Linked DNA regions of Homo sapiens. The protein of the gene in region 3 interacts with the protein of the main gene of each other region in a pairwise test. Each region holds a gene or a part of one and is shown on either strand. Other genes may lie near its edges.

Region 1 (2,548 bases), on a different chromosome or scaffold from region 3:
GGGATTGGGGGAACCCACTGTGGGAAATGACAGAGAAGCCAGTGGGGGAAGACAAAGAAAGAAGAAGGTGGAGGCAGAATAAAGGTGAGAAGAAGGGAAGGGGAGGATAAAACAAGTCCAGATTTAGATCTTCCTTCATGCAGCCATGCATAGCTGTCTGAGGCCAGCAGGGAAGGAGGAGAAAGGGAAGGTGTGGTGGAGGAGGCTGTGCTCGTGATGTCATGCTTTCGTGTATTCCCAGGTGCAGCTGCATATACTTGGCACAGTTTCTTGGGATTTCTAGCCAGTTTCTTGGCCTCATTTGTGCATTAGTTAATATGTGGCTGGCCCTGTACTGGGATGGTGGGATAGAGAAGTGAATGTATGAGGCCTCTGCCTGAGTTTATAACCTAGAAAGAAATAAAGACACACACACACAAAGGTGTTGGAGTGTGACAAGCCTTAAGGTACCCGTGTGTCCAAGTAAAGTAGAACCAGCAAGGGTGGAGTGCCCAGGTCAGTCTGGGGACTCTGGAGGCTTCGCACTGCAGGCGTCAGATACTGAGTGTTAGTGGCACGGAGAAGAGTGTGGAAGGCTCAGGATGGGGGTGGACAGCCTGGAGTTGTCACTCTCAGTAGAGATGCTAGAAGGGGCGGGAGGTGATCCCAGCCTCCCTTCTTTCCTCCTCCTGGCTGTCACAGATGCTCTGAATTGATGAATCCTTCAGGCCAAAAACACACAGGCTCCTTCCCTAGGTCTGGAAAAATGGTTCTCGCTGAAAAAGCACCAGGAATAAAATCTCATACAATTTTAGGTGTCTATTTTGTTGTCTCACCTTGAAATACTGCAGACAGAAAAACATGCACATGGGGAGCTGTGGTCCTGAGCTTTGAGGTAATGAATTCCCACTCATGTGATCATTTTTACCATAACCAAAGTTTCTAACCATCAAAATCAAGTGACAATTAAAACAGGCATTAATGGATAAATCCGTCTTTAAATATTAATGGGGTTAATTTTGTTAACAGCTATGTGTTGGTTGCAAGTGGAATGTTCTCTGTTCATTTGACTTTTGAATATAACTTGTTCCAGAATATTGTAAAATTAAGTATGTGAATGTTTCTTTGTATTCAGAATTAAACATTTGGTGTTAAAATCCCAGGATTAGGAGACAACTCCATGTAAATTTAATGTGTAATAATAAGATAATAACTTTTTAAAAAGCATTTGGATGGCAAATTATACATACTGACAAATGAATATTATCTGAAAGTTGTTTTGTTTCCATTAACTTTTGTGAAACAAAAAGAATTACTGTAACAGTCTATGTCTTGGCGTATTGCCAATTCACCACTTTCTACTTTGTGCTGGAACAGAACTGGCTTTTTTGACATCCCTGAGGAGTGGAAATGCAAAACGAATTTCAAGTTCTCTAATCTTTGTTCTATGACAAATGAAAAAACCTAAGTTATCTGGTGTTTTGGAGATTTGAGAATACAGCAGGTGAAGAGAATTAGCTTAAATTCCCTCCTCCCTTTTGATAAATCCACAGGGATTCCTTCACTCTGTCAGGAAATGGTGTGGTTTCCAAGCATTAGCCCTTCATGATCTGTCTGGTGCATTTCTGTGCTCCTGGGATCGCCAAGTGCAGGCACGGCATCGCATCCCCAGGTGTCATCCTGTGACCCAGGAGGGGAAGATGACACACCCAATTTAGGTAATGCTGCACTTCTTGTTATAATTGGTTATTGGAAAATGTGCCTTTATTATCAGAACAGTGGTGTGCGCATTTCTGATTATGGAGCTAACTTTTGGATATCTGACTTAGATACTAAAAACATTTGGGTGTTGCAGTTTTGCACTTGTAGATACAACTTAAAAGCATGAAACTGGTGATTTAATTAGATGTTTTCTATAAAATGCACCTTGTTACATTTCTGTGAAAGGGTCTTACCAGCGTGGAATAACTGGCTCAAGGGTTGAGAGAAACAACCATTTTCTAAACAGTTAATTGTTTAAAGGACTATACATGTAAGTCTGCAGGCAATAAAGGCTGTTGTGAAAAGTATCTTTCATTTGGATGATGGATTTTGTATTGCCTCACAAAAGAGAGGAGGGGAGCTTGAAACTTTTCTCTAAGAAGTAGGTATTTTCAGTGATTCCCTGGGGGACTGCTTAAAAAACAGTCACAACAAAGCCTCGTCCCATTCATCAAGGCTGCGGAATGAAAATGCATCCGGGCAGATGTACTCCTAGAGAACTCACCTTACCTTCTAGCTCTGGGGCGGGCAGCTGCGTCCTCACTTGCGTTGGGACATTTCATCATGAGTTGTAACAAGCATCGCTACCAGAACAGTTATGCCGAGCACTGGCCTCCTCTTTACATAGCAAGTGGGACAGAGAGGCTAAAATGGACCGTTTGTGTGGGAGAAAGCTAGTGTGCAAAGGTTGGTTCTGACCTATTCTCTCCTGCTGCATAAACAACAGCAAATGGGGCAGGACAAGAGGTCCCATGTCTTTGAGCTGCACTTTTATTACCATGGGTCTTAGAAATTTCTCCCTATCAAA
Region 2 (2,499 bases), on a different chromosome or scaffold from region 3:
CATTCAGTTTTTCAAAAAGGTCACGTTTCCAAGTAGTATTTGGCATGTTCCATCAAGTACTGAATTGGTACTAGGCAGATGGATCTAAGCAATTGGTATTAGTAAGTTAACAGGTAAACAGAATAATATTTACCTTCATTTTAAAAGAAGGTATTTAACCACATTTCTCACTTGTAAGTGGGAGGTAAACATTGGGCACACACATAAAGATGGGAACAACAGACACTGGAGACTCCCAAAAGTGGGGAGAGAGGGAGTAAGCGTTGAAAAAGTGCCGACTGGGTGCTATGTTCACTACTTGGGAGACAGGCTAAGCAGAAACCCAAGCTTTAGCATCACACAATATATCCATGTAACAAACTTGCACACGTACCCCTTGAATTGAAAATTTAGAAAAAGGTATTTAAAAAATAAAGTCTCCATTTCCGCAATCCTCTTGAGCTATCAGTATAAAACAGCACTTTGACAAACTCACATTAAAGGCCAATAACCACCATGAATACAAGACTTAGTTCTCATTTATTTGTGATTTTGCAGGTGTTCAAACCAATGAATGAAAATCAATTATCTCTTCATATCAATGAAATTCACTATTTCACTATTATCTTCAGAATCATAGTGATCAAAACCCTACCTGAAAATGGTAATACAAAAGAGAACTATTAATACAAGGTTTCAGAAGACTGTGCAAGTTAAAATAATTGGCATTAAAACGACACACAACAAACCACCGAAGGTTTGGTCCCTTTTCTCTCTGATATGTGGCCTCTGATCTCTTTCTTAGGGCAGTGGTTTTCAACGTCTGTGTAGCAGAATCACCTGAAAAGCTAACAGAATATATAGAAACCCAGGATTTGTATTTGTATTTAAATGTAAATACAAAAGGTCTGGGTCTCTGTATCTTTACAAAGTTCTCCAGCAATGGTTTCCAAACCAGGCTTATCACAATCACCAGGGAAGCTCTGAAAACAACAACACATTCCTAGGCTTCATCCCTAGAAATTCTGATTCAGTAGGTTTGAGGTCGGGACCCAAAAATCTTTTTCTTTTTGTTTTTTTTTTTTGGAGATGGAGTTTCACTCTTGTTGCCCAGGCTGAAGCGCAATGGTGTGATCTCAGCTCACTGCAACCTCTAACTCCCAGGTTCAAGCGATTCTCCTGCCTCAGTCTCCCAAGTAGCTGGGATTACAGGTGCCCGCCACCACGCCCAGCTAATTTTTCTTATTTTTAGTAGAGACGGGGTTTCAGTATGTTGGCCAGGTTGATCTTGAACTCCTGACCTCAGGCGATCCACCTGCCTCAGCCTCCCAAAGTGCTGGGATTACAGGTGTGAGCCACCACGGCTGGCTCAGGACCCAAAAATCTTAAAACATTTTTAAAAAATTTTAACAAACTTCCCAGGTATTCCCGACCAGCCAGATTTGGGAACCACTGACTTAGGACACTTATTTAAGGTCTATCACAGAACTTCAGGCCTCAGAGTTTAGTAAGAATATCGATAACTTTGGGTAGGTTATAAATCACCATCCTAGAGATAATTTAACAAATTAAATGGTCTAGTAGTGATTTGATACTAAAAAGCCCTGCCCAATTTAGTACTTAAATTACCTAATGATTTTCTGTCTATCTACTTTCCTCCCCCAGGCTAGGACCTGCACATAATATGTTTCCTATGACTAAGTGCCTACGTGTTCACAAAGTTGCCCCAGTGGAGGTTGTTAACTTCTCTCTTTTCTTCTTCCATTCAGATTCCCAAAGCTGTGAGGAGCAGACCTATTTCGAAGCATCACAGCCAGCTGATGTCACTTGCAGTATTATGCATTAAGACATCAACCCAGAAACCTGCAAATGGGAGACACTAGGCAATCCTATCATGAGGATTAAGCTCTTTGTGGAAGAAAATGCTTTCATTGCATGAGATAGGTAGTTTAAAAATGACTATTCTTTTTTCTTTTTTTTTTGAGACGGAGTCCTTCTCTGTCACCCAGGCTGAAGTGCGGTGGCATGATCTCGGTTCACTGCAACCTCTGCCTCCCAGTCTCAAGCGATTCTCCCACCTCAGTCTCCAGAGTAGCTGGGATTACAGACACGTGCCATCACGCCTGGCTAATTTTTGTACTTTTAGTAGAGACGGGGTTTTGCCATGCTGACCAGGTTGGTCTCGAATTCCTGGCCTCATGTGATCCGCCTGCCTTGGCCTCCCCAAGTGCTGGGATTACAGGCATGAGCCACCATGCCCGGCCAAAAAACTTGACTATTCTTGATGCCAAGACAAGAGAAACTTAATTATGACGTTAGAAGTTTCAAAAATACAGTGACTTCTGGGACACTTCTAGTAGCCAAAAATCCACAGATGCCCAGACCCCCTCCTTCTGCATTCCAGAATCAGATGTTTACATTCCAAGACAGAAAGAATCTGAAACAACGGCCTACAAGAAATTTGGGAAATGACATTTGATCTCATTTTCCTCTCAATTGGAAGTCATGATATCAATGAAT
Region 3 (3,500 bases):
AAATGTGAACTCAAGTCATTAAATTTAGAGCCTATGCTTTTAAAAATTGAAATCTATTAGAAAATTGTACATGTGTTGTACATAAAAATGACATACACAAGAGTATCTACTAAATGTGGATCAACATTTTAAGGATGAAATACCAAGAAACAAAAAAATGTTAAGATAGCTAGTTTCCATAAGAAATTTTACGTGCAAACTTAAAAAATGTTTTAATTAAAAATTTTACAGTTCTATAAAACTAGAAAAGCTCATGATAGAATATAGTATAATAGTTTGTTAAATTAGTATTTGAACCAGAAATCCAGTTCCAAAAGAAAATATTGCCTTTTCAAATGCCATAAGCTATAGCAATAAGTCATATTTTTAAAAAGCAAGACATGCACATTATTTACATAACAATTTTACTTTGCAAAGTATTAAATTTTGAAACACTAAATTTAGAAACATAGTTAAGCCCAAATTCCTTATTTTACAGGCAATAACTAATAAAACTGATAATGTATTTTGTACTGTTTTTATTTAATGACATTGAGAGTCTACTTAGCTATCACAACATTTATAAGTATCCCAGTATTAGCATTCTTATGCTTAATCTTTGAAACAGTGCATAAAAACACATCTGTACTCTGTACAACTGAAAGGTCAAAATGTTATGATACCAACACTTGTGTTACAGCAGCATACTCTACTGGCACTATTGTGTAGGCAATATGAGAGCTACCTCTTCAAAATCCATTTTTACAGCATTATAAATGTAGCATTCAAGATATTAGTGTCTCTCAATTGCAAAGATGAGTAATCAATATGCAAAAAAGATAAATTTGTAGCTAGATGTTCCTGGTAAGTTTAAAAACAAACCTATGTGAACTCTGTGAATGGATAAACAAAGTGTGGTATAGACCTACAATGGAATAAACTCAGCAATAAAAGAGAACAAACTGGCCAGGCGTGGTGGCTCACACCTGTAATCCCAGCACTTTGGGAGGCCGAGGTGGGTGGATCATGAGGTTGGGAGATCGAGACCATCCTGGCTAACACGGTGAAACCCCGCCTCTACTAAAAATACAAAAAATTAGCCAGGCGTGGTGGCGGGCGCCTATAATCCCAGCTACTTGGGAGGCTGAGGCAGGAGAATGGTGAACCCGAGAGGCAGAGCTTGCAGTGAGCCGAAATTGTGCCACTGCACTCCAGCCTGGGCGACAGAGCAAGACTCCATCTCAAAAAAAAAAAAAAAACAAAAAAACAAGCTATGGGTATACACTCCCAAATGAATGTATCTCAAAACCATGTTGAGCAAAAGAAACCAGATACAAAAGTATACTGTATGCTTCCATTTACATGCAGTTTTAGAAAAGATTAATCTCCAGTGACAGAAGGCAGATTAGTAATTGCCTGAGGCAGAGGCAGGGTAGGGAACTGAGCGAGAAGGGGACCAGGGAAATTTTAGGGGGTGATGGAAATGTTCCATAGCTTGATTGTGGTTATGTAGCAGGACATATTCGGGTAGATTTTATTGTATCTCAATAAAAGTTTATTTTAAATATTTTTAAATGGCACATAAAAGAAAAATAAACAAACTGGTCAATAAGCCAAAGTTCAAAAACATTTAGTCACATAATAGTTCTACTACAGGGAAGAAATTCTACTTACTTCTCAAAAAAAATCACTGTTTATGAGATTTTGCTTTGAATCTTCTCAATGTGTGGAAATACAATTACTACTGCATCAGAATTACTTTCATCTCTGCACAACATGGTTAAAAACTACTGACAGGCAAGAATCATGACAGATACCCGTTTTTACCCAATGCAAGATTCAGTGTAAGGCTGAAACCCCAGCTCAAAGCTTCTTTTCTATAAAGCCTAACTTCATCCTCTGCAATGGAGGGAATATTTCTCCTCTCTAAATCAGTGCAAGACTTGACCTATACCTTTCTTATGCCCTTAAAAGTTTTAAAATCTTACATGATAATCATTTATGTATGCCTCTTCTATCCTATTAGACAAAGTTTCAAATGAAGTCAGAAGGGATGTCTGATGTATCTCCACTAGGTGTTGAACCTAGTAGTGATATTTATTATACATTTTCTCAATTAACATAAATGACTGAAGAATTACTTAAAGTCCTATTGAACAACCAAACATTTAGATACTTTTACAAGTTACTGAAGAAAGCATAAAGTAAACGTTAATAAAAAGAAGTTCTACTTTGGTAATGATAGATGATAATCTGTAAACTGGACCAATTCAACCATGAGAATAAAGTGGACAAAATATGAAACAAAATTTCTCTAATGACATTAGAGAGCTAACAAGGTCATGAAAAACCATGCGACCAAGATATGAGAGAAGAAAACCCACAGTTCAGAATGAGAGGCCACTTTTATCTGAATATAGCCTGACAATTTTCTAAGAGATGGTTAAGAAGATTGAGATGAACTCTCAATAAACTATAGGGAAAAAATAAAGGAGTTGAGAGTTTGCCAAGGATGTGGGATCTGATAAATACCCAAGGCTTTGGGGGATTTGAGGTCTGAAAGAGCTATACCCTAGGAGTAAGGGTGAACTGGAAACATATCAGATTTCAGGGATGAAAGCCCAACTTCAAATAACCTAAATCATTCACTGATTTTAGGTGACCTGGGATTGCTAGTGTACCCGGCCACTAGCCAGAAGAAAATTTTCTGCAGGGAGATAATATTGTAGGCCTAAAATCTTTACTCTTTTTCACAGAAAATGACTGGTATTTTATCTTAAATAACCACACATATGAGGAGGCAAAATAAAAAATTTTTTTTTAAAAGAAAGCAACAGGCAATAAAAACATACCACAAAGGATCCAAATAATGAAGTTTTCAGACATATAATTTAAAGTAACTATACTTAATATATTCAAGGAATTAAGATTGAGAGTTTACTGGAGAACTTGAAACTGAAAAAAAGGAATCAAATTCTAGAACTGAAAAATATAATAAATTGAAATTAAGAATATAATCAAATTTATCAAAAGTTTTATAGAAAACACTTTGTGTCTTGTCTTTTTATACCTCAAGGATTAAAATGTTTACCAACATAGTCTACCAAAAGTTTTTAAAATGTTGATTCACTTTTAAAGCCTTTAATCCATCTTCAGCTGATATTTGTATATGATGTGAGGTAGGGAATCCGACTTAATTAAATAACTATTTTTTTTTCAAGCTTCATTTCTCAAACATTTCCTCCTTTCCTCTTGATATGACATGCCACCTCTGTCATACACTAAAGTCGCATATTTCCTTAGCTCTGTTTCTGGGCTCTCAATTCTTTTTTCAATAATTATACATTTTTATTTTATCTTATAAAAATTGGGTGAATATGTAGATTTAAATTGACAAAACTGTGTATTGAACAGTTTTGTCTTTTATAGCTTAGAAGAAAGATTTTGGGCAAAAATGAAATCTCTCTTTTGGAAATGATTTATTTCTATTTTATAATACTTCTGAGCACTGTTGCAACTTC
Region 4 (3,500 bases), on a different chromosome or scaffold from region 3:
TAAGCATAACTGAAAGATTGATTCTGCATTCTCTGTGTGAGGTGATTTTGTCGATCTGCTGTCAGTAGAGCATGAGTAGATTTTCCAGTAGTGGCGATGGGTTTGCACTGAGTACCCGTACTCTCCCACTTGGATGCCCTATAACAATTGCATGAATTTACAAGATGGCCAATCAGCATTACAAGTGCAATCTGTGCCTGAAAACAAAGAGCAGAATTGCCTGGTCGAGGCAGGAACAGTGTGATGAGCTTAACGTTGTTAGCATGGCATTCTAACCAGTAGAACTAACTAGCTATTCTGGAACCTTACCTTCTGTTTTCTAAGTAGAAAGTGATGAAATGCATATATTCCATTTACGACATGTGCTCATGTCCCATTCACATAAATCTGAATCCTTTCAAGAAATTCTCGTGGCATAAAGTTTACCCTTTAAAGTGGTTTTTAGAACATTCTGAAGCTGTGCAATCTTCACCACTCTCTAATTCCAGCACACTTTCATCACCCCCAAAAGAAACCTGGTATCCATTACCCCCAAAAGAAACCTGGTATCCATTTCCTTCTCCATCCTGCCGCTGGCAAGGACTACCCTTCAGTTCTTTTTATTGTTTTTTTGTTTGTTTGTTTGTTTGTTTTGTTTTTGCTAAATGTTTTAATCAAGCTTCAAATTCTTTTTCTCATGGATTTCAACAAGTAACATTTGACTGACTTGCTCCAGCCTGATTCCTGCATGTGTGACTTAACCTAAGTCTTTTCCTCCAAATCTTCCATTTTTATCCTGTTCCACTGTGGGATTTGTTTTATTATACAAGTCTTCTATTGGGAACACTTTTTTTGTTACTTAAACCCTTTCAAAAGAAAACCCACATACATAGATGTAAAACAAAACACAAAAAAATTTCATCTCTTTAAGATGAGCTTCTTTGAGGATGGCTTCATTTTCAGTGTCTTCACCAGAAAAATCTCCTTTCAACTGTGTGTGTCCTAGAGTTGAACTTCTATGGGAAGTCTGTGATTGCAGAGATCATCCTCTCTTTCTCTGTAAAAGTGTGATCCAGTTGCACTCTTAATTTCATCACTAAATGATCACATTTGTGTATGTCTTTCAGAATGCAGCTCTTCAGCATCTGTTTATTCGGAAGTCCTTCCGGCCTTTTAAATGCTTGCAGTGTGGGAAGGCCTTCCGGGAAAAGGACAAACTGGACCAGCACTTACGCTTCCATGGGCGGGAGGGGAACTGCCCACTGACCTGTGATCTCTGTAACAAGGGCTTCATCAGCAGCACATCCTTGGAGAGCCACATGAAGCTCCACTCAGACCAGAAGACTTACTCTTGCATTTTTTGCCCAGAATCCTTTGACCGCCTTGATTTGTTGAAAGATCATGTGGCCATTCATATCAATGATGGCTACTTCACCTGCCCAACTTGTAAGAAACGGTTCCCAGATTTTATCCAGGTGAGTGTCTACTACTGAGATTCCTGTCTGCTTCCTTCTTTTGGTAAAAGAAACTTCGATTTTTGGAAAACCGAGACTGCCTAGCACCTGCATTTCCATCCCTTCTTTGAAACAACTTTACAATTGAGAACAATATTTCTTCAATCAAACTACTTTTATACACAAGATTATTATGACCCTTAATTGTCCAGATCAGACATTGACATTGAAGTGTTTAAGTTACAAGTAATAAACACCCAGATCTATTATAATTTTTAAAAAGTCTTTCATAATCCATGTCAATGTCTATTGCTTATAAAATATACCGAGCCTGTAGAAGACATACTCCCGTTTCTGAGGGGCTGGGAACATCTCCCTACTACTACTGTGGTTTCCTGCTTGCTTTAACCAAGGCCATACATTTTGGAAGGAAACAAAGAGAAAGTTGGTATATAATATACTTTTGTATCAGGAACCGACTGCCTCCTCCCCTGTAGTGTATTCTTTGTTGGAGCAAAATGGGTGAAGATAAATTTCAGAATACTCATGATTTCATTTGGACTTTAAGTGATAAGATTTTCCTGTGCTAGTCAGTGAATAACGAAACATTTTGTAAAAATACACTTTTTCAATTACCAAAGGAAAAGAAGACTAGGGATTTAATTTTAGTTCTGCTAGTGTTGAGAGTCTTGGAAATTTTCTCACTTCACACAAACTAGTAGAAAGATTGCTTTAAGGCATAATTTAATGGCAAAAGAAACTCCAAAAATAATGAAGCAAACTATCTTATAGGAATAGTTTGGTAAGACTCACTACTTAGCTTCCATCCTCAGCTCTTTCTCATTGGATATGTGTGGCTAAGAGAGTTCAGAAGCCCTATTCCTTTATTTATCTAAAAGTAAGGGAAGTAAGTCCCAGTTGAGAAGTGACGCCAGCGTCATATTGCTCTCACAAACCGGTAATGTCTTCTGTATCCACTCATTCATGTCTTTAATTCTTCAGAACTTAATTTTATAAGAAGATGTAAAAGGATCAAAAGGGGCTAAATTGCTTCTGTGCAGATTAAAGACGGAGAAAAGTAAGGAAGAATTGGTTTTTGTCTTCCTATAGATCCTTTTTAGCAAGATTTCATTTAAACCCAAAGGAACTTTTGCTTTTTATCTTTAAAAAATGGGCTTCAAGTGATCAGGGCTTTGACCAAGCAAGCACTCTCTCTCTCTCTCTCTCTCTCTCTCTCTCTCTCTCTCTCTCTCTCTCTCACGTTTCAAGTCATCGGGGAGGTTCGGATTTCTAAGGCTTTCTGGCTACTTGTTTTATTTCTTTGTGACAGGGACAGTATGTGTTATTGAGGCCAATTATCACATCTGATTGGATTCCTCGGCGGGGTTGATGAAAACCCATGGTAATGCGTTTGGCTCCCTCTAGCGTTGACAAGCTGCCTTTGGTCATTTCATTTGGTGCCTGCGTCCCCTGAATTTTCCTGTGGTTCTTATCACCAGGTGAAAAAACACGTGCGCAGCTTCCACTCAGAAAAGATCTACCAGTGCACAGAGTGTGACAAGGCCTTCTGTCGCCCCGATAAACTGCGACTCCACATGCTCCGGCATTCGGACCGCAAAGACTTCCTGTGTTCCACCTGTGGGAAGCAATTTAAGGTATGACACCAAGGCACAGCCCAAGGTGGTTCTCGTGGCCACTGGAATTATAGCAAGCTGAGGGTAAATGCCTGTTCATTTCATCAGTTTATCACCCACCTCTGATGAACTGGACCTGAGATACTCTTTGGGCCTTGTGTTTGACTTAGTTATAAAATTAAGGGGGAAAACTTACTCATTTCCTCAAAATAGTTAATTCAAATCCCCAAACAAGTAGAGTAAAAATGCATCATCTCCTAAAAGAATCCAAATGTATAATGACAAGTATAACTAAATCGCTATTGAGATTTCCTAACAGACCAAAACCTTTACTTAACATTCAGATCAGGAGGTTTTTGTTGAGCACTGATGAAGTATAAGAGCCCGTAATTGAGCCTTGCAGCCAGCAGGACGCTCATCTAATTCAGGTGGG
Region 5 (3,500 bases), on a different chromosome or scaffold from region 3:
GGGATTACAGGAGTGAGCCATCATGCCCAGCCCATGCTAGGTAATTTTAAACCAGTAAAGAATGAGCTGGGTTTGACACAATGGACCTCACCTCTATGAGTCACAGACATGCCTTTTCCAATCTCAAGTTAAACCACATAGAAACTTCCTGTTTAGGAAGTAGTTGAAGTGAGAAGCAAAGTCAGGAAAGCATATAAAGAAAAGCTAAGCTTTCATTCATATCCTTGAATGAAAACAAGCCTGTTTGAAAAATGCATTAAAAATCTAATATTAAATTGTTTCAGTTCAGAAACCTTGCTCTGCTGCACTTTAAATAAATCTCCCACTGTTGTTTTGGTTTTGTTTCCTTGACCTGGGTACCAGACTGTCTTGGGGGCACGCCTGGACCGAGGGGCAAGTAAAGGAGGAAAGCTGTGGGAAGCCATTTTCTGAGCATCTAAGCAAAAATAGCTAGAGGCTTCCAAGTATAAACGAATTTTGCATACTGATTAAGTAACTCCTTTAAGAACCTAAAAACATCCCAAGTAACAGAGAATAAACTGAATCAAACATACTTGCATTTTCCACCAAAACTTTGGGCACACGCTGGCGGTTCATTAGGAGTGGGAAAGGATCTCTCCCATCATTCCGTTCGTGGACCTCTCGAATTTCCACCGTATCATCCATAAGATAGTAATGAATGATGTAGGTCCGACATTCACCATACATGCTGTCTGTATCATCCCAGATTGCATAGAATCGAAGGACCTTTGAAGAATCCAAAGTAGTGACTCAAGAATCCTAAAAGTAGGGAGTTCAACTTGGCTACTTTGGCAATTATGTATCAACGATGGAAAGACTAGCTGGAAAGACTATGAAGTAATTTCAGATGGGGTAAATTGAAAAAAAAAGAAATATTCATCAAACATACTAAAACATCTGAAATTATGTACTATATGTCAGCAGCTGGAAAGAATTAAATAATAGGATTATAAGTTTGTGCCAAAAAAGAAGAGCTCACTTTGATCCAAAATATTAGTCAGTGAAAGAGAAGCTAAATTAAAAGAGCAATGAAGTTCTTTACATAGTGGTATATATATATTAATAAAGGTACATGTGAATATGGTTTATATATAATTAGTGTAGAAAAAATTTTTATTTATTAACCAGTCTTTTTTTGGTCCCATCAACACATATCTTCTAGCAATAATATAAACACAATCTTTTTTTTTTTTTTTTTGGCTAGGCTTCTTCAAATCGTGGGAATAAACACAATCTTTAAATACAAAATAATAACAGATATATGACTGATATGAACAAAATCCTTAAAAGACCATGCTAGTGCTAGTTTACATTTTCTGAACTAAAAGGGGTTAAATGTCTAAAGAAAAGGAGCAGCAAAGAAGCACTGAGGGTGATCTCTTCCTTTTCTTTCTCCCTTTAGTACAGAAAGGGAAGGATTTAAATCTGCTTATACACATCAGCTCACAAGGGAGAGGATTAGGAAGGTTGGAACAGAGTTGGAAAATGCTCAGAACATTCTGGACTCCAATATTAATATAACATTTAACAAGGAAGCATCTGTAGTGGGGCTTCTGTGAAATTAAACATTTTAACATTACAACCTACATGTATGCATATTTGTGAAATTTCCTAATAATCGATTTATGGTTTCACAAAGGAGTCTATGAAATTAGCTCATTTTAAGGGAAAGAAATTGTCAATTGGAAACGTAAGGTGGGAAGCAGATGTAGCTCAGGAATTGCTTTGAGATTTAAATGTTTGGTGAGGTTCACAAAACAACTCCGCAACTCCACGATCTTCTTTGGATCTCCATATGAAATGTAGGCATTCCTGTACCTGTAACCCTTGATGAAAGCAGAAAGACAGTACTGTGTCCAAACAGTTCAATTATAGCTGTAATGTTTCAAAATAGTTACCAATACAGCTACCCAAACCTTTTGCCAATAAATGTAGGTCACATTTGGAAATAAGTAAGCCTATTGTGGTTCCTATGTCACTTACCTGTTTGTCAAAGGTGAGAAATTGCTTGAGTTGATCAAAGTCTGATGGGGTGACATACTTACGAAGAGGCTGTTTTCGGAGTTCAGTGTAAGGATCAAGAGCCATCTTCTCTGGTGGATTTAACTCAATTCCTTGGCTTTCTAAAAATACCTAAATAATTGAAAGTTAACAATGATCATCTTTCTTGGAGCTTTTCAGAGTAAGTTATAAACTGATTATATAAAAATAAGTGTATGGGCCAGGCACTGTGGCTCAGGCCTACAATCTCAGCACTTTGGGAGGCTGAGGTAGGAGGACTCCTGAAACGCAGGAGTTCACAATCAGCCTGAGCAACATAGTGAGACCCTGTTTCTACAAAAACATTTAAAAGTTAGACTGGTTTGATGGCATTTGCCTGCAGTCCAGGCTACTCAGGAGGCTGAAGTGAGTAGACTGCTTGAGCTCAGGAGGTCAAGGCTGCAGTGAGCCATGATCATGACACTGCACTCCAGCCTGCGTCACAGCAAGACCCCGCCTCAAATAAAGAAAAAAAGAAAGAAAAAGTGTAATAATGATTTCTATGCCATTGCTTAAGTTAAACATTAGTTTGCTGCTTGAGCGCATGTAAGCTGTATTAAGTCTCCAACTGAGCCAACTCCATAATGCAGGTAATAATTGAGAGTTACCTGAAGTATTTTATATTGTTATATTGCTAGGTATTTGCTAAGCTAGTTGGGAGGCACAATGGCAAAATAACTGTTTTCAAATAATTTAAATCAATCAAATTTAGTTAGGTGCCTGTAACAGAGTAAGTCTTAGGATTGCTTACTTTCATATATCTGGAACCTAACCATGGTTTCAAACAATATGTAATTCCTATTAGGTCTGGAGGCAAGATGCACAATGGCCAAGTTAGGCTGAAATCATATTCCCAATTTTCTAATTCACTTAAAACAAATACTGTATATGATTAAGTCCCTTCCCCTCACCAAAAAAGAAAAAAAAGAAAGCATACCCACTGGTTATATTAGACCAGAAAACGTGTTAGCAAAATAGGAAAGACAAACCAAGTGCTCAAATTTCACCAGACATTCCTGAAAGGGACAGTGAGAAAGCAAACAACTTGGAAAACATATTTCAGGATATTGTCCACAAAAACCTCCTCAACCTCGCTAGAGAGGCCAACAATCAAATTAAGGAAATACAAAGAATCCCTGCAAGATTCTATGCAAGGAGATCATCCCCAAGCCACATAATCATCAGATTTTCCAAGGTCAAAATGAAAGAAAGAATGTTAAAAGCAGCTACAGAGAAAGGGCAGGTCACGTACAAAGGGAACCCCATCAGGCTAACACTGGACTTCTCAGCTGAAACCCTATAAGCCAGAAGAGATTGGGGGCCTATATTCAACATTCTTAAAGAAGAAAAATCTTCAACCAAGAATTTCATATCTAGCCAAACTAAGCTTCTTAGCAAAGGAGAAATAAGATCCTTTTCTGATAAGCAAATGCTGACAG
Region 6 (3,500 bases), on a different chromosome or scaffold from region 3:
AAGTACATATATGTCTACAACATAGGTAACAAAATAATTATCCTAGAGCAAGGTTTTATGTAATTAAGTAATGTAATTTTATGTAATTAAGTAATGTTATCCTAGAATAGAGATAGTTGTGTCAATAAAAAGCACGTAAATTTGATAATGGATTTGCTTTGTGCAAAACTGAATAGGTAGGAATTCCTTTTCTAGAAAAAATAAGATGAAGAATCATGTAACACATTTTCTATACTGTGCAACTAGTAAAATGTAAAAATAATATTTATAATAGAAATTAGCTTGCTCTATCTAACAAGAATTCCTTTGCCTGGAAAAAAAAAGTGTTTTCATAATATGTTACTAAATTGTTAAAACTCAGGTTACAAAGTAGGATATACAGTATCATCCCAAATTTATTTCTTAAAATGTAACCCGAAAAGCCGTAGTAATAAATAAAACAGTAGCTCTTTCTTAATAGTATGATTACAGATGATTTTTACTTAGTGCTTTTCTAAACTTTCTTCAGTGTTTACTGGTATTATTTTTTGAATCAGAAAATATAGCTTTACACTCCTAAGAAACCATAGTCAACACTATAAATGAAAGACAGCAAAGGTGTAAATAGTTCAGAAGTGACTTACTTGACAGCTAGACTTGTTTTTACACCTCTTGTGGATTTCCTCAAAGCACTTCCACACTGCACTGAAACTGGATTTATTTGCTGGTCTTTCTTGGGTCTTTTGTTCTTTCATTCAGTAATTATTGAGCCTCTATTATGTGCCAGGCACTGTTCTAGGCACCGAGGATTTAGCACTGAGTATAATGGATGAAGTCTCTATCCTTCTTTGATATGGAAGACAAAGACTAAAAATTTTTAAACAAAAACATACTTTTAGTGGAGAAACACAAGCACACAACACACACACCTCTACTTTTAAGTGTGATGAAGAAAAGTAAAGGAAAGAGGAGTAGAGCAATAGTAAGGTGGGAAGAGATGATAGTTTTAGTGAAGGGAGCACTCTGAGGAAGTGCTATTTGAGCAGAGACCTGAGTGAAGTACGGGAGTTGGCCAGAGAAAGGTAAGAGAGAACAGTCTAGGTAGGGGGAATATCAAGCAAAGAGGCCTTGAGGTGGCACTAAGCTTGGAATGTGCCAGAATAAGACCAGTGTGGTGAGACTGGAACGAGCAAGGGGAGAGCAGCAGATGGCATGGAAGAGGTGGGTGGGCCCAGGTCATAAGCGCCTTACAGGTCCATGCAGGGATTCTAAATTTATTCTAAAGGTGATACAAAGGTACTGAGGTCTTGAAACAGTGATGGCCTGGACCAAAGCAGTAGGGTAATGGGATGAGACATGGTCAGTATGGATATATTTTGATGGCTGATCCAGTATAACTTGCTGATGGATTAGATATGAGGAATGAGGAAGAAATCATGGACAATTCTTAGGTTCTTGGCCAAAGCAACTAAATGAGTAGTGTGCCATTTACAAATCTGGGGCTGACTGGTGACGAAACAAGTTGTGAGCGGCAAAACTGAGACCTATTTTGGACATGTTAAGTATGAGATGACCATTAGACTTCAAGTCAAGATGTCGGGTGGGCAATCATAATTATAAGTCTGCCATTTGGGGGCAAGTTGGGGCTGAAGGTATAAATCTAATATTTAAAACTATGGAACTAAAAGATATCTCCTAGGTGTTGGGGCAGAGAGAAAAGAGAATAGGGCTGAAAACAGCCCTAAGGCGTGCCAACATTAAGAGGTAGGGAAGTCTATTCACCTCACTAGAGAGACCAGTGAGGCATCCCAGAAGCCAAGTGAAAGTATTTTCAGTAGGAGACAGTGATCCCCTAAGTTAAAGCTGCTGATGAGTAAGTTAAGGATTGAGAAGTAACCATTGGATTTGGTGACTTTGATAAAGGTAGCTTCAGTGGAGTGATGAAAACAAAAAAATTGGTGTACAGTGATCCCTCCTACTCCACAGTTTCATTTTCTGGGGTTTCAGTTATCTGCAGTCAACCAGAGTCCGAAAAATATTAAATGAAAAATTCAAGAAATAATCCGTAAGTTTTTAAATTGCATGCCATTCTGGGTGGCATGAAGAAATCTTACACTGTCACACTCCATCCTGCCCAGGACATGAATCATCTTTGTCCAGTGTACCCAAGTTGTATACGGCAGCTGGCCTCAGTCACTTAGCAGCAGTCTCAGTTATCAGATCAACCCACAATGTTGCAGTACTTGTGCTCAAGCAATCCATATTTTACATAATGGCCCCAAAGTGTGAGAGTGGTGATACTGGCAATTTGAATATGACAAAGAGAAGTCATAAAGTGCTTCCTTTTAATGAAAAGGTGAAAGTTCTCAACTTAGTAAGAAAACAAAAAACAAAAAACAAAAAACTGTATGCTGAGGTTGATAAGATCTACAATAAGAATGAATCTCCTGTCTGTGACACTGTTAACAGTATATAGTTATAATTGTTCTATTAAAAGTTATTGTTGTTAATCTCTTACTGTGCCTAACTTATAAATTAAACTTTATCATAGGTACATATATATAAGAAAAAAACACAGTGTATTAGAAGTCGTTTCAGGCATCTGCTGGGGGTCTTGGAACATATTCCCCATGGATAACGGGGGACTACTCTATGTTCAAGAGAGAGTTAGAAGACCACTAGGTACAGAAGAGTTGACTGCTGTATCCCTACCATCTCGGTAGCTCTTGGTATAGAGTAGGTATTGAATAAATGTCAAATCTGAAAATTCTCAATACTTCAACCCAAATTAAGAAACCCAAAATGGTGGAGAGCTAGAGAGCTTCCTGCTCATCCAGTTCTATTCCTAGCCTCCAGAATGAGTGAGGATGGATTGTAAAAACATGAGCTTTTTTTCTCTTCTTTCTTAATTTGCTGTATATCTAGGGCTAAAACGTAATAAGCATTTTGATTGGTAGCTGAACTAAGAGATACGAGAAACACCTTCTCCTTCTGCTCCCCAATTTTCCTTAAGTTATATGTAACTAAAAGTTAACAAATAAATTATGACCATGTTACCAAGGGGGTTAAAAAAAAAACCACCACCAAAACAGCAGTCAAATATTTTAAATAAAACATCTTATTCCAAAACTTCTGCTGATACCTTAAAGACAGACACTTATTTTGCAAAATAGGTAACTTTCCCTCTTCCCAATTTAGATCTCTTTCCATTTCTCAAAAGTGTAAAGTAAAGCCTTTTGTGGAGAAAAGGCAATGCCCAGATAATGGGTTTCCTACCTGACATAATGTCTTCTGCTAATTCCTTTTCTCTTTCAATTTTTTCCTCTAGAGTTGAAATGCAGAATTCATAGCCAGCAACAGCAAATTCCTGTCTGTAAAGCAAAATCAATAATCAGCCATTTACCTTTTCTTCTTTTTTTTTTCTTCCTTCTGTTGAGATGGAGTTTCGCTCTTGTTGCCCAGGCTGGAGTGCAATGGCGTGACCTCGGCTCAGAGCAACCTCCACCTCCGGGGTTCAAGCG
Region 7 (3,500 bases), on a different chromosome or scaffold from region 3:
AAGCCGCAGAGGCTGAAGAGCCGACATTCCAGTTCTGTGAACCATTCCGGGTTTTCCCCATAATCTAAGACCATCTTCCCCCTCCCCCACTTTCCAAGCCGAGAGCTCTGAAACACAGACCTAAGGGTCTTACCCTTTGCAGGGTCTGAGCCAAAGGGAAGCTCCAGGGCGTGAGGCCAGGCCCTAGCATATAAAGAGTCAACTGTGACAGGCCTCTGGAAGTTGGAGGGGAAGGAGGATTAGAGTGCCCGCCCTAGGCATCCCCTGCTAGCCAAAGGGAAGCATGCCATTTCCTCAGGCCACCAACTTCAAACTGCAGGTCAACAGTCCAGTTGCAAAACCCATTCACAGTAAGTCTGCAACCAGCATCTTTTTGGTTTTTTTTTGAGATGGAGTCTTGCTCTGTCGCCAGGCTGGAGTGCAGTGGCCCGATCTCGACTCACTGCAACCTCTGCCTCCCGAGTTCAAGCGGTTCTTCTGTCTCAGCCTCCCAAGTAGCTGGGATTACAGGCACACGCCACCACGCCCAGCTAATTTTTGTATTTTTAGTAGAGATGGGGTTTCACCATGTTGGCCAGGATGGTCTCGATCTCTTGACCTCATGATCCGCCCACCTCAGCCTCTCAAAGTGCTGGGATTACAGGCATGAGCCACCGCGCCTGGTCCTTTTTTTTTTTGGAAACAGGGTCTCACTCGGTTTCCCAGGCTGGAATGCAGTGGTGCAATTACGGCTCACTATAACCTCAAACCTCTGGGCTCAGGTGATCCTCCCACTTCAGCCTCCTGAATAGCTAGGACCACAGGCGTGTGCTATCATGCCTGGCTAGTTTTTGTATTTTTTTTTTTTTTTTTTTTTTTTTGTAGAAACAGTTTTGCTATGTTGCCCAGGCTAGTCTCAAACTCCTGGGCTCAAGCAATCCTCCCACCTCAGTCTCCCAAAGTGTTGGGAATACAGTCCTCAAAGGGGCTGTATTATGTGAGGGTGTATAGGGGCCTGCAACCAGCATCTTTAGAAAAGATCTGAATGTGGCCGGGTGCGGTGGCTCACACCTGTAATCTTAGCACTTTGGGAGGCCAAGGCGGGCACATCACCTGAGGTCAGGTGTTCAAGACCAGCCTGGCCAACATGGTGAAACCCTGTCTCTACCAAAAATACAAAAATTGGCCGGGGGTGGTGGTGTGCACCTGTAATCCCAGCTACTCCACTTGGGAGGCTAAGGCAGGAGAATCACTTGAACCCTGGAGGCGGAGCACCACTGCACTCCAGCCTGAGCAACAGAGTGAGACTCTGTCTCAAAAAAAAAAAAAAAGATCTGAACGCCCTCTAAGTAGGAAGTACTCATTCATGAAAGCTTCCATTCTGTTTTCCCTCTACATAAATGTATGCCTGTCAGATGGGTCAAGACGTACAATGTATATTTTACTGTAGGCTGAAGTCAGAGTTTGAAAGCCACCATTTTGGGCATGGCTGGTTCTGCTGTCTGTGGGCTGCCTGTGCTTCTGAAATCCACCTGACCCACCACTGCAGCCCACTCTATGCACGGCCCAGCCAAGCTCTTAAAGGAGCGCCCTGCTGAGGTGGCCAGGTGGAGGGTAGGAAGGGATGTGGAGCCCAGGGAGTGGGTGCTGAGACCACCGGAAAGCCAGGCTCCCCCGGCAATCTCTATCCCCAGTTCCTCAGCCCAGAGCAACAATGGGCAGCTCACTGATCCCTTCCTGTTCCAGACACGAAGACAGCTGCCTGCCTAAACCCTCCCTGGCAGGACCTCCTAGGCCAGGCTGGCTGGGCAGCCCCTGCAGTTCTGTGTGCGCATCCCCCATGGTTGCTGCTCACCGCAGTGCCCTGCCCCCGCATGCCTAAAGCCACACAGGCTGCTTGCCTGTGGCTCTGCCAAGCAGGAAACTGAGGCCTGTTCTCTGGCCACAGGTGCCATGGAGGGCACACGATGCTGGGGACAGTTGATCCCCTGCCCACTCTCCATGCCCACCCCTGCCACAGCCAGATGCCACTGACCATCAGGGAGGCGGGGGGTGTGAGCCAGGGGGTGCAGGGCTGGCGGGTGAAGCTGGCTGGGGTTTTTACACAGGAAGGAAGAGCAGGCTGATGTGGGGGAGGAGGCCAAGGAAGGGCGGAAATGACTGCAATGTCAGCACCCAGGCGCAGACCAGGGGAGGCCAGGTGCTCCCCGCCCCCCAGTTTTGACCTTTGTGCTAAGATGAGACATGCAGTCTTCACCGATACCCACGATATCCAGAAAAAAGAACAACAGTCAGAGAGAGTGGGGGCTGATTTAGCACACAGGCCCCCACAGAATACAGTCCCTTCAAGAAGAAAATGCTATGCGTGCTGGTGGTCTGGGGGTACACAGAGAAGAGGCATCTGGGAACCCCAAGCTCTTCCCCAGGCCCACCCTGGAGGGCAGGGGTAGTGGAGGCACTGGCCTCATTCACATCTGCCAGGCTTGCGTCTGCCAGGCTGGCAGGAAGGGGACCAAACAGAGGGCAGCAGGGATGCCGCAGGGCAGGGCAAGAGCTCACGTTACTGATCTGGTCCTGGGTCTTCTTGATTCTCTGGAGCTCGGGCGTGTCTGCCACTACGCTGAAACCTTTGCCCTTGTTCTTCTCAAACTCCTCCTTGTAGCGCACCTGCAGGAGGGGAGGAAGAGGGATTGGAGTCAGGCCAGGAGCCGAAAGGGCCTCGGCTTGGGGCCCCTCTGAGGCAGCAACCAGTCAGGAGACAGGGACAGGGAGTCAGCAGAAAGACCCTGATCAGAAGTCCCCAACTCAAAGCAGAGGCCTCAGCCAAAAGGTGTTAGACTCGTAATAATAAGCCACTACCAAGTCTTTGGTGCACAGTGAATGGCAGGCACAGAGTCCAGGGCCTTACATGAACCATCTCATTTAGATCCCACCATACATATAGCCACGCAATTAACAGCTCCAATTTACGGATCAGGAAACGGAGCCACAGAAAGGCAAAGTCCCCTGCCCAAGGTCACAGAGCTTAGCAGTCAATGTCCGGCACTACCAGAGTGCAAACCCTCATCTGCCTGACTCTTGACCCTTCACTCCCTGCCCATCCTGTCTGGAAGCTTATAGGAAAAAGGTTCTTTCCAGGGCTCCCAGGGTGGCCCCAGCCCTCATGTTAGCCAGGATGTGGCCCTGCCCACTACGCCTGGGGGAGCTTTTCAGCAACCAGCTGAGTGAGGGCTGTGCCAAAGGACAGAGTTGGTGCCCAGAAAGGAGGGTGGTGAGACAGCCCCAGGGAAGGCTCCATCAGTGCGCCTTTGACAGGCCCCGCGGATTCTGGGAGCCTGCCGGGATGGCTTCAGAGGCCACCGCCATAGGAGGGGAGGAAAGCAGCGGGGGTCAGACAGCATCTCAGCAGGTCTCCAAGCTCCAGGGAAGAACCCTTCCACCCCACCACAGTACTAGAGGGACTCAAGTCAGACATCAGAAAGGACTTCCCTGGCACGAAAGGAATTGAAATATGAGGAACA

The links.
Region 1: the proteins of REL (region 3) and SHC3 interact in binary tests that used the Homo sapiens proteins (3 or more experiments, as listed by UniProt).
Region 2: the proteins of REL (region 3) and RAB29 interact in binary tests that used the Homo sapiens proteins (3 or more experiments, as listed by UniProt).
Region 4: the proteins of REL (region 3) and PRDM10 interact in binary tests that used the Homo sapiens proteins (3 or more experiments, as listed by UniProt).
Region 5: the proteins of REL (region 3) and EFHC1 interact in binary tests that used the Homo sapiens proteins (3 or more experiments, as listed by UniProt).
Region 6: the proteins of REL (region 3) and TTC19 interact in binary tests that used the Homo sapiens proteins (3 or more experiments, as listed by UniProt).
Region 7: the proteins of REL (region 3) and LASP1 interact in binary tests that used the Homo sapiens proteins (3 or more experiments, as listed by UniProt).

What each region holds. Positions count from the first base shown.
Region 1 is NC_000009.12:89,005,271-89,007,818, reverse strand, and holds the end of SHC3 (SHC-transforming protein 3), read left to right. Parts: coding exon of another isoform or gene 1-301; 3' UTR 302-2,048; downstream 2,049-2,548. Other genes in the region: uncharacterized protein LOC124902206, read right to left, coding at 1-301. UniProt on the Homo sapiens protein: Signaling adapter that couples activated growth factor receptors to signaling pathway in neurons. Involved in the signal transduction pathways of neurotrophin-activated Trk receptors in cortical neurons.
Region 2 is NC_000001.11:205,767,486-205,769,984, forward strand, and holds the end of RAB29 (ras-related protein Rab-7L1), read right to left. Parts: 3' UTR 501-2,499; downstream 1-500. UniProt on the Homo sapiens protein: The small GTPases Rab are key regulators in vesicle trafficking. Essential for maintaining the integrity of the endosome-trans-Golgi network structure.
Region 3 is NC_000002.12:60,912,574-60,916,073, reverse strand, and holds part of REL (proto-oncogene c-Rel), read right to left. Parts: intron 1-3,500. UniProt on the Homo sapiens protein: Proto-oncogene that may play a role in differentiation and lymphopoiesis.
Region 4 is NC_000011.10:129,922,836-129,926,335, reverse strand, and holds part of PRDM10 (PR domain zinc finger protein 10), read left to right. Parts: intron 1-1,106; coding exon 1,107-1,454; intron 1,455-2,932; coding exon 2,933-3,088; intron 3,089-3,500.
Region 5 is NC_000006.12:52,451,342-52,454,841, reverse strand, and holds part of EFHC1 (EF-hand domain-containing protein 1), read right to left. Parts: intron 2,155-3,500; coding exon 2,005-2,154; exon of another isoform or gene 748-2,004; coding exon 555-747; intron 1-554. UniProt on the Homo sapiens protein: Microtubule inner protein (MIP) part of the dynein-decorated doublet microtubules (DMTs) in cilia axoneme, which is required for motile cilia beating.
Region 6 is NC_000017.11:16,006,324-16,009,823, reverse strand, and holds part of TTC19 (tetratricopeptide repeat protein 19, mitochondrial isoform 1 precursor), read right to left. Parts: intron 3,351-3,500; coding exon 3,256-3,350; intron 847-3,255; coding exon of another isoform or gene 818-846; exon of another isoform or gene 760-817; intron 1-759. UniProt on the Homo sapiens protein: Required for the preservation of the structural and functional integrity of mitochondrial respiratory complex III by allowing the physiological turnover of the Rieske protein UQCRFS1.
Region 7 is NC_000017.11:38,897,558-38,901,057, reverse strand, and holds part of LASP1 (LIM and SH3 domain protein 1), read right to left. Parts: intron 2,647-3,500; coding exon 2,539-2,646; intron 1-2,538. UniProt on the Homo sapiens protein: Plays an important role in the regulation of dynamic actin-based, cytoskeletal activities.